Regions from separate parts of the Homo sapiens genome. Here region 2 is linked to region 1. A link means that fine-mapping ties the variant in region 1 to the expression of a gene that starts in the linked region. Tissue or cell type: whole blood. Region 1 holds a variant in brackets; the other region holds the start of a gene. All regions are shown on one strand. Distances are from middle to middle.

The links. PIP is the estimated chance that this variant, and not a neighbour inherited with it, causes the effect.
Region 2: it holds the start of SPHK1, and the variant in region 1 is fine-mapped to the expression of SPHK1 in whole blood (INTERVAL, PIP above 0.99).

The regions. Positions count from the first base shown.
Region 1 is chr17:76,410,587-76,418,044 of GRCh38, reverse strand. All of the region lies in intron 1 of UBE2O (ubiquitin conjugating enzyme E2 O), which reads left to right. Among named protein-coding and RNA genes, the nearest start is that of SPHK1, 30 kb to the right of the region's middle. The variant G/A (reference allele first, on the strand shown) is at 3,335.
Region 2 is chr17:76,380,363-76,387,820 of GRCh38, reverse strand. SPHK1 (sphingosine kinase 1) reads right to left here and starts at 3,212. Exons shown (of 6, transcript NM_001142601.2): 1 at 3,015-3,212; 2 at 2,167-2,370; 3 at 1,684-1,836; 4 at 1,506-1,600; 5 at 1,313-1,428; 6 at 1-1,015. The coding sequence starts at 2,176. The coding sequence ends at 235. RefSeq lists silencers at 2,845-3,544, 4,125-4,264, 4,285-4,574.

The sequences.
Region 1 (7,458 bases):
CTGCGCCTTCCTCCTGAGGTGGTGAAGAGCATTGAACCTCATCTGCCCACTTCTCCACCTCCACTTCTCCCAAGGCACAACAGCAGCAAGCAGCTCCTCTAAATGCAGTGAGCCAGGACTCAAATACCAGCGGAAACAGCACCATCATGGAGACTGGGAGGAGTTTCTGCCCAATTCTGCAGGTGCAGTGAGACATTCATCTCTTCACCCAGACGTCTCTTCGCGGACGCTGATGCATCCATGCAGCATCAAACACCTGCTCCTCTTCCCTTCCTCCTGTCTCGCCTGGGCCTGCAATAGCTGTTTCCTGCCCCTGGACATGCTTAGCATTCTTTCCTCCTGTAGTCGAAGGCCCTTCGTGGTGCTCTCTGCCAGGTGGTTTTAGTGATGGCCTCTAAAGACCCAGCTCAGTTCAGCCACCCAGTGCACTCTCATTTGGCCTCCATCCATGTCCTCTTATCACTGGTGGTGGGTGTGTCCACACTCATAAAAAGGAGGGGGTAGAGAATTTTGACCATATTAACAAGGAGGTGGTTAATACTCTAAGATTTCCTGTTGGTTCTCTTCAGATAGCTCTCCTGGTGTATCTAAAATCCCCTCACTGTAATAATACATTTAAATCCTGATGTGCCCATACATGAAATTTTGCATTGTGTTCTGTTCTTTGTAAATGTTATCGTCTTCTCCAGGGAAGAGGTCCTCGTCTAGGGACCTGCCCTGGTGCCCCAGCCATGGGGGCCTCCTTGGGCCATGCTGCCCAGGGATGTCGTTGACTTTCGGCTGGCCTGCTCTGATGGTCAATGGGGGTGCCCACATGTGAAGAGCAGAAGCCTGCCCCTGAGTCAGGGAGAGGTGCCAGGCAGGTGGAAATCAGGACCCCAGGAGGTGTTTAGGGGACAAGCTCTGGAGCTGTAGCCGGAAGGGCCTGGAGCTCATTCAGCTCAGTGTTGCCCAACCCCCTGATGAGGCATCTGGTGCCCAGAGATGTGACATGACTCCAGCACACACAGCTGGGGAGTGGCAACTCTGTGGCCCCTGCAGGACCTGGTCCCTGTGCCCTGAAGCTTATACTCCACATCTCTGTCCCCTGCAGTGTGTAGCCTCCATGTGACCAGCCGCAGCTTTGTCTCACTGCACCTGCAGAATTGGGCAGAAACTCCTCCCAGTCTCCATGATGGTGCTGTTCTAGTTAGTATTTGAGTCCTGTTTCACTGTCCTGAGATGAGCTGCTTGTTGCTGTTGTGCCTTGGGAGAGATGGAGGTGCAAAGGTGGGCAGTTGAGGGTCTTAGGACCTAATGACCCAGCCAAGAAGTGACATTTTGGTCAACTCCCACTCTCCAGGCCAGCTGGTGTCCCAGTGATGCCAGCATCCCGGGATGGTATTCATTTCATCTGCCTTGAAATAGTAACTGCAGGTGTTTGAGAAGCGCGGGGAGGTTGGTGTGGGCTCAGGGAGGTTGTGTCTCTTCCACGTGCGGTCTGTCATGGCTGAGAGCAGGCCCTGCCCCACTTCTTGGACACAGCCCCTCCAGGGCTCCTCTTCTCCTGGGGAGCATAGCTACAGGGGAACACCGCTGTTTCCCCCAAATTTTCCCAGAAGCAGCTCAGAGGGATGCAGTCCCTTTTAGCTGTTTCTCTGGGGGGTGTGCATCAGAATCATTTGGGGAACTTTTTCAGATGATTCCCAGGCAGCAGGTCTGGGATGGGGCCTGAGAGTCTGCGTTTCCAGCAAGCTCAGGGAAGATGCTGGGCTGCCAGTCCAGGGCCATGCTTTATATATATACATATACATACATATACACACATATATACACATATACATATACATACATATACACACACATATACACATATACATATACACACACACACGTATGTGTATATAAAGCCACACTTTATATATCTATACACGCACATATATGTATATATGTATACACATACGCATATACATGTATGTACATATGTATACACATACGTATATACGTGTATGTACATATGTACACACACATATATACGTGTGTGTACATATGTATACACATACGTATATACGTGTATGTGCATATGTATACGCATACGTATATACGTGTATGTGCATATGTATACGCATACGTATATACGTGTATGTGCATGTGTATATATTTGTATATACGTGTATGTACATATATTTGTATATACATGTATGTATATATATTTGTATATACATATATGTGTATGCACACACACACACACACACACACACACACACACAGTCTTGCTCTGTTGCCCAAGCTGGAGTGCAGTGGCGTGATCTCAGCTCACTCAAACTCCACCTCCTGGGTCCAAGCAATTCTCCTACCTCGGCCTCCTAAGTAGCTGGGATTACAGGTGCGCACCACCACACCCAGCTGATTTTTGTATTTTTAGTAGAGACCAGGTTTCACCATGTTGGCCAGGCTGGTCTGCAACTCCTGACCTCAAGTGATCCAACCGCCTTGCCCTCTCAAAGTGCTGGGATTACAGGTGTGAGCCACCTCGCCAGGCCCAGGGCCACACTTGAATGGCAGCATGGTTCCAATTGGTCCAGGTGTAGCAAGGGCCATGCTTGGAGACCAGACAGGTCAAATGAGGAAGGGCAGGTGAGCAAAACAAAGGCTCTGGAGTCCTGGCACTTGGGTGACCTTAGGCAGCTCACTTACTTCTCCAAGCCACCCAGTCTCCTGTGGAATGAGAACAAGAGTGGTGCCTCCTTCGTGGGGGTCATAGGGTTGGGAGAGGCAGTGCACGTGGGGTTCTTTCCTGGCAGGCTCCGTCAGGATCAGTTTGTGTGATTAGCAGCCTGGGTCCTCATTCCGTGAACTAACATGGCATCAGACACTGAGGGGTGTTGAGGCTGTGAACTTGCTCTGTGCCTGGCCAGCTGGCCGACTCCCTTCTTGTTCTCAGGGATGCCCGGCAGCCACAGGACCGCAGCCTGTCGCATCTGAAATGGAGCAGTCCGGGGCCACTGGTTAGGTAGTGATACCCAGTCAGGCCTGACAAGAACAGAACATGGAATCATGCTGATCACTTTTCTGCCTTCTACTTATACTTTTGAGGAAGGAGGCGGCCTTCTCCTAAAGATGCCCATCTGTCCCCTCCCTTCAAATGCAGGAGCCAGGCCTGGGCTGTTCTTGTCTTTTTTTAAGCCAGGTTGACAAGCCCAGAGCCAAGACAGAGGGGTGCAGGGCTGGGCTCCTCGGCTCCCAGCTCCTGCCGCCAAGTGCACATATTGCTTATCAAACACCGCAGCATCTGCAGAGACCAGCCCGCTGGCCCCCTGCCAGGCCAAGCTCTGCAGTCCTTCCCCCTCACTTA[G/A]CAGGCAGTTGGACTCAGTCCCCTTTCTCTGTCCCTCGGGCAGGCTGTGCCTCCAGGCCATTCCAGCAAGCTGGCGAGCTGCAGCCGAGTTTCCAGGCGGTGATGCAGCAGCACTGTATTGCCCAGCCTGAGAGTCTGCGTTGTGAGATCAGAGAGGGTGTCAGGGGTGAGGGCGTGGGGGCTGTCCCTGGTGTGCAGTTCCCCTGCAACCCCGGTCCTCCTGCCTTCCCCCACCGCCATCCAGACAGGACTCAGTTTCTGGTCTCCCCACCCAGCTTAGTGCTCTATTTACTTGTGTATAACTGTTTTCAGGTGTAATTTCATCTTACCTCCCTCATCTCAGTGTAAGTTCTAGAAAGCTAATTCCCATTCTTAATTATATATTTGTATTCTTGTCTTGTCTTAAGTCTATAGAAAACACTCAAAAACTATTCAATCAGTTGACCTCAGTCTTAGCACAGCTTCTCTGTTGAATGGCTTCCGTAGCTCATGATTGACAGAATTTTCCAGCTAGGGGCACCAACATTTCTTTTACTTCCAGCCATTTCCGGAGGTTCTCCCTCCCCTCCCCCAAGCATGTGAGGCCCCCTGGCCATTTGTGCTTTGCTGGTAAAACCTTCTGTCCTCAGGTGGGCAGTGAGCTGATTGCCGGGTTATCAGGGCTCAGCCACATGATGGTCAACTGCTCTGAGAAAGTCCTTACACTGGCACCAGCCGGAATTACTGACCATTCACATCCTCAAATCCAGTCCAAACTGGAAACTCGGGCTTAGGAAGAAGCTGGAAGAGGAGTCCAGCTCCAACAGGAGGCCCCATTTTCTGCCTCTCCTGGTTTTACTGTTTGAGCCAATTTAGTAACATTTTAAGTCAGGTCAGAAAGTTAAAGTTCCTCACCCTAAAAGTGCCTGAGTGTGACTGTGTGGGTCTTGGGTTTTGTGTTGGTTTGCATGTTTTTTGGTTCCAAGACCAGCTTCTCATGAGAGGGATGTCCTCCCTCTGATGTAACTGCCCTGAAGCCTGGCCAGAAAGGACCGAGAGTCGGCGCAGGTGCTGGGCAGAGAATTCAGTAGAGTGGAGATTCTCCAGCTTCTCAGCAGTCACTCACGGTAAAATACACATTTTATATCATGACCCGGGACACATACGTGTTATATATGCAACTGAACGGGTTTTTTCAAAATATTTTAACTGCAGTTACTTTTTGCCAACCTAATAGTACTTATTCTTACCACATGTATATTAATGCACTCAGGTTTTTTTTTGTCCAGTGTTGACCATGACCCACTAAATTGGTTCTATAACCCACTAATGGGTCACAACACATGGTTTGAAAAAAAGTGCTGCTTTGGGGAATATGCCATTCTACGATTTCCGCAGCTTTTTCAGAAATCCACACTGGGATAAACTTTCCAATCTGGTGTAAGTAGCTTCTCAGGCCATCAAGCTGCATTAACATTGTGGGATGGGGGTGAATGTCACTGGTCCTTACTTCCTCCACCCCATCCCTACGTCAGATTCTTGCAAAATCTTTAAAGACCATATGTGTACCTTATTTTATGTTTGTATTCTTGTCTAGCCTTGAATATATAGGAATCACTAAAAAAGTGGGATCCTAGGCCTCAGCAAGGTTTCCTGCTTCCACCCCCGCAAAACTGAGTTGGGTTTTTTTGTTTCATTTTGTTTTGTTTTGTTTTTGAGACAGAGTCTTGCCCTGTCTTCCAGTCACCTAGGCTGGAGTGCAATGGCGCAATCTCGGCTCACTGCAACCTCCGCCTCCCGGGTTCAAACGATTCTCCTGCCTCAGCCTCCCAAGTAGCTGGGATTACAGGTGCCCACCACCACGCCCAGGTAATTTTTGTATTTTTAATAGAGACGGGGTTTCACCGTGTTGGCCAGGCTGGTCTCGAACTCCTGACCTTGTGATCTGTCTGCCTCAGCCTTCCAAAGCACTGGGATTACAGGCTTGAGCCACTGCGCCCGGCCGAGTTGGTTTTCTTAGTTTGAAAAATATATATGCACTAACACACGTGACCCCTGTCTTGAACTATAGTGGCGCCACACCTGTGCTGGCAGTGGAGTGGGCACATGGCAGCGTGGAGCTAGACCCTTCAAGCTCAGGGACAACCAAAGAGCCAGAGAGGCCTCAGCTGAGACAGGAGGGGAGGGAGAGAGGCTGGTTAGGAGCCCCTGAGGTCCCCAGCACAATTGGAAGCTCTGTCTCTCCCACACCCCCAGTTGGCCACTGTCAAGTTCACTCTTTTTCTATACACCTAGGACTCAGACCCAGCTCAGACAATAAGAGATGGGGGGTCAGGGAGGGGGTGGAGGAGTGGCGTTTCTCAGATTGTTTTTACTCTTTGGGAAGTATCAAGTTGGAATTTAGAAGTTTCCAGTGCTGGTCTAACCTCATCTTCCTTTTAGGAATCTGGTCTTTGAGTCCTGGCCTAGGTCAACAGCTTCAGTCCTGTGTGTGGCTGCTGGACCTTCAGAGGTCTAGGGTCTGGCTTAGTCCTACAAAGGGAAAGCCTCACTCTTTGAACACAAATCCAGGAGCCATTGCAAGCTGACCTGTTGTCTACACACTCACCAGGGACCTAGTGTGGGGCTGGTCGTCCGCTTGTCCTTGAGGTCCCAGGCTGTCTGTGAAGCCTCAGCGGGCACTTGGCATGATGCTGGACCTTTTCTGTTTGAGACTACTGCAAGCTGTGAGCTGAAAACCTAGTATTGGGGCCAGGCACAGTGGCTCACGCCTGTAATCCCAGCACTTTGGGAGGCTGAGGCAAGAGGATCACTTGAGCTCAGGAGTTCAAGAACAGCCTGGGCAACATGGTAAAACCCAGTCTCTACAAAAAAAATAAAATTAGCCGGGTGGTGGCATGTGCCTGTAGTCCCAGCTACTCAGGAGGCTGAGGCAGAAGGATTACTTGAGCCCAGGTGGTTGAGGCTGCAGTGAACCCTGCTTGCGCCACTGCCCTCCAACCTGGGTGGCAGAGTGAGACCCTGTCTCAAGAAAAAAAAGAAAAAATCTGGTATTGATTACATCACTAACCTCCAGAAGCGGTGGGGTTGCCTTTTACCCCGGGATTAAAAGAGAGCACCCATGTCTCGTCCTGTTTGGCCTTCCCTGGTGTCTGACACCTGGAGATGACTGTGGCATGGCTGGTGGCTTCCAGCCTTGAGCTGTAAGTGCTTAGGCTCCATGCAGGCCCCTGCTTTTGGACTTCTTCCAGCTCCCCTTTTTGAACTGGGAGCCCATTTAGTGTTCAAATGCTGGTGCTAGTGGCCAGGCACAAAGCCGCCTTTTCCCTTGGGGCAAGGGCATGGCCTCCAGGAGCAGCCCAGCCTTTAGGAGCCATCCGCTCCTACAGGGACATGACAATCAAAATCACTTGAAAGTAGCTTCTTGGCCAGGTGGAGCGGCTCACACCTGTAATCCCAACACTTTGGTGGCAGGAGGATTGCTTCAGCCCAGGAATTTGAGACCAGCCTGGGTAACATGGCAAAACCCTTTCTCTACAAAAAATTACAAAAATTAGCCAAGCATGGTGGCGTACGCCTGTAGTCCCAGCTATTCAGGAGACAGGTGGGAGTATTACCTGGAAGATGGAGCCATGATTGCACTCCAGCCTGGGCGACAGAGTGAAACTCTGTTCTTCCCACCCACCCCCTCCCCCACCACACCAAAAAAAAGTAGCTTCTTTATTTAGCGTCTTTGTATTTTCAACATGTTGATCAGCCTCAGTTTGTGTTTTCTATTCCTGGATCACTTTATACAGTGAATTTGGATTCCACCTGGTCAGTCAAGGTCAGTGTTATGAATGAGAGTCTGGACCAGGAGCTGCAGGACGAGCTAGTTGCTTTTGCTGTGTTATTGGGGGTCAGCCTCAAGACTGCAGCTCAGAGAAGCAGCATGTGCCTTGGGAGTCAGGCAGCCGTGGAGGGAGAGTGCTCCTGGCAGGAGAGGCCCCCGGTGAGCTTCCCCGGCTCCTGAATGCCTGCTCTGAGTGGCCCCCAGCATAGCTTCGGGGAGCTCAAATGGGGCACAACAGAAGTGCCCAGCCTCCTGCCACGTTGCCCTCTGCCCTGGCATTGTCCCTGACCCCTCACTTACCATTTGATTGCTT
Region 2 (7,458 bases), 30 kb after region 1:
GTGGGGGTCTCAGAACAAACTAGAAGGCCTTACATAGGCAGCTGGGCCCAGCCAGCTGGGCTCCTGACCCAGGACTTCATTCTGGCCTGTCCCCCCAAAGCATAGCCTCCACCTTCTCACCCTTCTCCAGAGGAGTCTCCTCCACCCCCACAGGAGCTGTGGACAGGCCCTGCAGCCCTAGGGAAGGAGGAAGGGTCCTGCAAGTAGACACTAAGGCACAGCGCGGCCCAGGGGTCATAAGGGCTCTTCTGGCGGTGGCATCTGCTGGGGCTTCCAGCTGGGCGGGGGCTCCACGCAACCGCTGACCATCCAGAAGTAGTTTGGGTGCACCTGGCCCTGCACGGCCTCGCTAACCATCAATTCCCCATCCACTGCAAACACACCTTTCCCATCCTTGGGCTCCAAGCGGAAGGCGACCACGGGCACATATACCAAGTAGGGGCATTCATACTCCATATGCCTGCCCTTCTCCATGGCCAGGAAGAGGCGCAGCAGCATGGCACGAGACACTCCCGCCCGCACGTAGAACAGATGCATGACGCCAGCTGCACAGCGGCCCATGGGTGCAGCAAACATCTCACTGCCCAGGTGCGAGTGCAGCAGTGCCAGGACTAGCACAAAGTCCTCGTCGGGCACCACTGTCCAGTGAGAGGGCACTGGCTCCTCCAGTGGCACAAGGTGTGCATCTACCGGGCCCTGCTGGACCACAACGGGGGAGGCAGGTGTCTTGGAACCCACTCTTCCTACAGGGAGGTAGGCCAGTCGGCCGCGGTAGGTGCGCAGGGCTGCCAGACGCAGGAAGGTGCCCAGAGTGAAGCGCATCTCCCCCAGACGCCGATACTTCTCACTCTCTAGGTCCACATCAGCAATGAAGCCCCAGGCCAGGCTGAGCACAGAGAAGAGGCGCAGCCCCGAAGCCGTGTGCAGAGACAGCAGGTTCATGGGTGACAGCAGCCGGCGGCACAGCAATAGCGTGCAGTTGGTCAGGAGGTCTTCATTGGTGACCTGCTCATAGCTGCAGGGGGAAAAAGTCAGATAAGGCAGGACAGGAGCCCCCATGTATCCCCCGCTTCCTCCTCCCGGGGAGTGGGAGCTGGCAAAGCGCCATGTGGTCCCTGGGGAGTTGGCAGGACTGGTAGGTGACAGATGGAGCAAATGGAAGCAGTCAGCTGGGGTCACCAGGAGAGGGCCCCAGGACTAAGGGAGAAGGGGAAATGGAAATGATCTCAGCCTATGGGAGCTTAGACAAGAAAACCCCCGCGGTAGAGGAGCACTGACGGGAAACAGGCCTACTCTGGCCCTGGGCTCTCACCCAGCATAATGGTTCAAGGAAGCTGCCAGCGCGTTGCCAGAGCCTGCTGGGAGGCTACACAGGGGCTTCTGGATGGCGGTCTCCCAGTCAGGCCGCTCCATGAGCCCGTTCACCACCTGTTGAAGCACACGTGGCCTCAGCCTGGGACGCACCGCGCCAAGCCCCAGGCCTAGCCGCGCAGTGCGGTCCTCACCTCGTGCATCAGCCCGTCTCCAGACATGACCACCAGAGCGTCCCAGCGGCCCAGCTCCTCCGACCGCACCAGCTCCCGCGCGTGGTTCCGCCGCTCTGCAGGGAGACCGGCAGCTATCAGGACTGGGGGGGTCCCCTGCCAGGGGATGCTCCCGAAACCCCCTCCGAGAGGTACTCACCAGTGAGCATCAGCGTGAAGGAGATTTCAGCCTCAGCCAAAAGGGGCTGCACGTGACTCCGGAAGAGCTGCAAGGCCTTGCCCTTGCCGCCGCGCGGGTTCAGCAGCACCAGCACGCGGCAGGGCCGCGGGAGCACGCCCCGGGGGCCGCCCGCTGAGAAAACAAAACCAAAGAGGCCACGTCCGCAACCGACCACTAGGGGGCCACGGGTAACAATGGGGCACTAGTGTGGGAACTTGGTGCCCGAAACACCCCGGTAATTGACCCTGGCCAGAGGAGCGGCCTTTGCTGGGAGACCTGGGGTGGGGACGCGGCGCCCCTGCCACCCCCTTCCTTGGCTCAGATTCGGCCGGCTTCTGGCCTCGTGAGGGATAATGTTTCTCCCGATCGTCCACAGCCCCTTTCGTCCAGCTGGGCGTTCCATCATTCCTGGCGAGGAACAGGAATCCCCCTACAGCCCTTCCCAGCAGGAACCCCACAAACCTGGATCCATAACCTCGACCCGCGGCTCCCGCTGCCAGGGGGTCCCTGGCGCTGTGGGGGCGCTGCCCGTGGCGGCGGCTCCTGCCTTCAGCTCCTTATCGGTGCTGCCCAGGCGGGCGTCGCAGGGCCGGCTGTGGGGCTCGCCTTCCCCGCCCGGAGCCGTGGCTGCAGGAGCACCGGCGTCATTCCCTGCGGCGGCTGGACCTGAGGGAGAGAAGACAGCGCTGGCGGAGTCCGGGGCCGCAGCTGCCAGAGGTGGGGAGCGCCCGACTAAATCCCGGGACCACGCGCGGGGAGCCAGGTTCCCGGGAAGTCCAGAGAGCTGAGGTCCGGTGCCTCCGAGGGCGCCCCCGCCGTGTGACTAAGCCTACAATCCCTGAGAAGGGCGCCTGCTCCGGGGCTTTCTCCCTGGGGCTTGGGGTTCGGTTCCGGCCCGACGGATGAGTCAGAGCCCCGTGGCTCCCTCCGACGGACTAGCTCCTCACCCCTCGGGGCTGCCAGGGGGAGGGGAGTCCAGCTGCGTAAAAATCCCAGAACTTGAGCGGACATTGCTGGGCACGAAGTTCTGGGAGAGGATCCCTGCCCCAGCCATCCAGGTTGCCGTGTCCCCTGCCCGGAGCTCCAGAGCGGTGGGAGCCGCGGCGCGCGCTTCTCAGGGCCCCGCTCCGTTGCGACGCGCGCGGCGCTCGTGGGAGCCGCTCCCGGGTCGCGCCAAAGCCAAGCCCGAACCGGGCCACCAGCTGCCGCCTGCTCTCGCCCAAGCGACAAGTGGCCCAGTTCCCGGGGCCCCGCGAGGGCGGGCCGCACAGGAGCCACGAGCGGCGCGAAGGCAGGGTGGGCGGCCCTACCCAGTCGGTCCGGTTTGCTGGGGAGGCGCCACCGCCGTTCCCTACAGTGGCCTGGGGCGGAACGCAGCTCGTCCCAAGCTCAGCCCACGTCTGAGGGACTGGAGCGCCCCGCTGGAGCGGACTCCCCGGCCTCGCTCCCTCCGGCCTCAAACTTTTCGCTCAACTTCGCAGCCGGCGCCGCGGAGCGGGGAGGGCACTGAGCCTCGGCGCCGGCCTGGCTCCGCCCCGCGCTCCCGGGGGTGGAACCTGAGCCCGGCGCGGCCTCGGCCTCTGCCCGCCTCCGGCCTCAGCGCGCCGCCTCCGGCACGGCCCGCGCCCACGGCCGGGCCACGAGCTGGTTCCCGCCCGGGTCCTAGGAAGCGGCAAGCGCGCCCCCGCCGCTCGTCCTAGGCGTCTGGCTAGAAGGCGGCGCCGCGACCTGGCCGGGTGAGCTGAGGCGGCAGGCCGCGAGGCGCGGAGTCCCGGGCCCGGCCGCGAGCGCAGTGTCTGGGGCGCGCGAAAGCGACCGCGCAGCGCAGACGGAGGCGCGGGCTCCGCGCGAACTCGTGTCGGAGCGAGCGCCGGGCGCGCGCGGCTCCGCTCTCCCGGGGGACCCTTGGTTTCACCTCGACGCCACGACCTCGCCCCCGCGGGTGCTGTCGGCGCCGGGATGCAGCGCCCCTTTTGCGCGCTCTGCCCTAGCCCACCCGAAATTCGAGGCCCGCACGCCACCCGGGGCGCCTCTCCAGGCCGGGGCGTCTCGCCCGCCGCCCACCAGCTTCCCTCTTTCTTCCTCCCCCGCGCTCCCACGGAGGTTATTTTTAACTTCCCGACGCTGCAGCTGGGCTACCGAGCCTGAGGCCGCCTAGCGCGCTGTCCCGGGTAGAGCAGGCGACAGGCCGGGGGCTCCGAGCCGGAGAGGAGGCTTGACAGTGTAGATGGGCCTGGGGGCCCCCGTCGGGATTGGAAAGCCAAGCATGTGGTACGTGCCCCCCGCCCCCTCTGGCTCAGCGTGAAGAAGGGGCGCCGGAAACGCGCTCAGAAGTTGTCACTTCTTTGGAGGCCAGTAGGGACGCGTTTGTCAGTGTGTTTGTGATACACTTATCGCGGCAAGCCACAGAACGTGTCCGCGAGCACCTCGAGTTAGATCCCTGGGGGGTTACGGCGGAGACGGAGGAAGAAGTTGCCAAGGCCCATTGGTGACCTGCCCAGGTAGGGCCAGAGTTAGGAGAAACCAAGCCCCTGCGGGAGGCTGCGGGGCTCGCGCGCCCCCGCCGGCCCCACCCGCCCCCACACACCTCTCTCATCGCTTCTTAAAGTCGAGAAGAGGCAGGTCCAGGAGGAGCACGCAGCCAATTAGCCGGGCGGCGCCCTGAACTCCGGCACGCCTCCGCGGTGTCTTCTCTTCCGGAGGACCCAGGCAGCTCGGCCCCGTTTCCCAACACTTGGGGGGTCAGACGGGCGGGACCCGAGAGTCCCCGGGCGGGTCGGGGGGCACTGGCTGGGACGCGGGGTCCCTGGGGCCGCAGCTCCGCGCGCGTATCGGCGGGTGCGCCTTCGCCTTGCGCGGCCCCCGGGCAGTCCCCGCTGGGTCCAGAGCGTCCCGAGCGCGTTCCGGGAAGGTGACTCAGCGACGCGCTCAGGGGTCGAAAAACTCCGAGAAACAGGAACGAGGGGAGGGAGCAGGGGCGTCATCCCCGACTCCTGGCGTCGCGGCGCGTGTCGGAATGATGGGTCCTGCACCTCCGAGCCCCCCACCCCCTTGCTCCAGGAATCCGGCGCGGGCGGGGGAGAGAGCCCTGCAGCCGCAGTGCCGCGGTCATGCGCTGCGGGGACGCGAGCGGCGGCTGTGGGAGGAGGGGGCTCCGCGCGGGAGCCCAGGACCAGATCCGTCCGCCCCTCCCCTCTCCTCTGCCTTCTTCCCCTCCTCTTCCTCCAGCGAGGGACTTTGGTGCCTAGAAAACGCGAATCGGAGGCTGTGCTCCCCGAGATCTCAGCCTTCGAGGGTACTGGCTGCGGAGATTAGCTGGGGCAGCCTTCCCCGTCTGCTCCCCGCCCCGGAGAGCATTTCCACCAAATCTGAAAAGCTCTGTCATTAGCCATAGAGTCTGAAGAGGGGAAACTGAGGCACAGGGAAGCACTGTGAGTTCGTGGTGATAAAGCCCACCTGGTTCAGGGTCCCCCCTTTTTTTTTCCTCCTGGGGCCCCAGAAAGGTCGGATCCTGCGCCTCCAGGCCCACTACCACCAGCCTTGAGTCCGCGGAGCGGGCGGGGGCGGGGTTGACTGCAAACTGAGTTGGCAAGGGGAGGCGGGGCACGGGCTCTTTATCCAACGCCTCCGGGCCCCAGCTCCCCTCCTGGCTCTGGAAGGCCCCGCGGGAGGGAGGCGAAGGGCAAAGCCCTCTGGCCCCGGTTCCAGGCCGCACAATGGGTCCTCTGTCCTCCCTGGCGCCTAACCCCCTGCCCCCCTCACCTCCAAGGCCTTTGCCCCCCTCATTCTTGTCATTCACTTCCCCCAACCCAGGCTGCCTTTCTCCAGACCCCTTTCCCCTTCTCCCTTTCTAAAGAATTTGATCCTATCTCCAGAAACTCCCCCAGCTGCATCCCTGCTCAGAGAGGCAGGATTGGCCAAGAGCAAGATGGTTCCCCTTCCCACGGTTGCGGGTCGGGGGGCGGGCACTTGGATCTCTCAAGCTGCCAGCTTGGCCCGTTTCCCACTGTACTTTACTTCCTTTTTTAAAAAAGAAAAAAGGACAAGGCGGGAAGGAGTTGGGGGGGCCTGAAACCCTGAGAGGTGAAGAGGCTTGCACAAGCCTCCAACCAGTTCCCCACAAAGCAGAGAAGCAAACCTGTGAACCCAGACCCCACGCTGAGAAGCCAAGTCCAGCCAGAGCTCCCCTCTGGGCCTCTCTGTATCCCAGGCTATTTCTCCCTGAAGGGCAGGTATCTGGGGATCTGGTGCCTGGTGGATTGCTTGCCGCAGAGCTGTGGCGTCTCCCTGAGGAGGAGGAAGCAGCAGGCCGGGCGCAGTGGCTCACTCCTGTAATCCTAGCACTTTGGGAGGCCGACGTGGGTGGATCACCTGAGATCGGGGGTTGGAGACCAGCCTGACCAACGTGGAGAAACCCGTCTCAAACCCCGTCTCTACACCGGGTGTGGTGGCGCATACCTGTAGTCCCAGCTACTTGGGAGGCTGAGGCAGGAGAATTGCTTGCACCCAGGAGGCAGAGGTTGTGGTGAGCTGAGATCGTCCCATTGCACTCCAGCCTGGGTGACAGGGCGAAACTCCATCTCAAAAAAAAAAAGAAAGAGGAAGCAGCTCCAAGCCCTCCCCAGGCTTCATCCTGAGTCTGGAAACAGCTGAGCAGCCGCTGTGCTCAGCAAGGCCCACCGTGGGCCTGGGAACAGGCCTGGGCCGGCAGAGAGGTCTGATTTGATCACCAACCCAGAGCTTGGCTTGCAGGTAATCTGCTTCACAGGTGGGAGACTTTTTCTAACTTCCCCAGCCTCCCCTTCCTTGTGGGCAGCCTCCCCAGGGAGACACACCTGAGAACCCCCTTTTTTCTTTTCCCGAGAAAGAAAGCAGGCATTCACCTGGCCTGGTCCCAGCTCTCCAGAAACTTGGAGTCAAGGCTGCCAGATGGCAAATTACTTGCTTTTATGAGGAGAGGATTCCTGCCATCTCACCCTTCCCTGAAGCTACCTTCCCTAGGAGATTTCAGCTCCCTAATTGCATAGCCTCAAGGTCTTCCTTGACCTCAACTTCTTTCCCTTTTTTTTTTTTTGAGACAGAGTCTCGCTCTGTTGCCCAGGCTGAGGCTGGAGTGCAGTGGCGCGATCTTGGCTCACTGCAACCTCTGCCTCCCGGTTTCAAGCAATACTCTTGCCTCAGCCTCCCGAATAGCTGTGATTACAAGTGTGAGCCACTGCACCTAGCTAATTTTTGTATTTTTAGTAGAGTTTGTGTTTCACATGTTGGCCAAGCTGGTCTCAAACTCCTGACCTCAAGTGATCCGCCTGCCTCGGCCTCCCAAAGTGCTGGGGTTATAGGCATGAGCCACCACTCCGGTTTTTCCCTTTTTATGGTACTTTACTGCCTAGGGGGTTGCAAGGACCGGGGAAGGGGGAGGTTCTATCTCACAAGCTCTTTGAGCTTAGGGGCCGGGCACGGTGGCTCACATCTGTAATCCCAGCACTTTGGGAGGCCAAGGCGGGTGATCATGAGGTCAGGAGATTTGAGACCATCCTGGCCAACATGGTGAAACCCCCGTCTCTACTGAAAATACAAAAATTAGCTGGGTGTTGTGGTGCATGCCTGTAATCCTAGCTACTTGGGAGGCTGAGGCAGGAGAATCGCTTGGACCCGGGAGGCGAAGGTTGCAGTGAGCTGAGATGGTGCCACTGCACTCCTGCCTGGGGACAGAGCAAGACTATGTCTCAAAAAAAAAAAAAAAAGCTTAGGGCT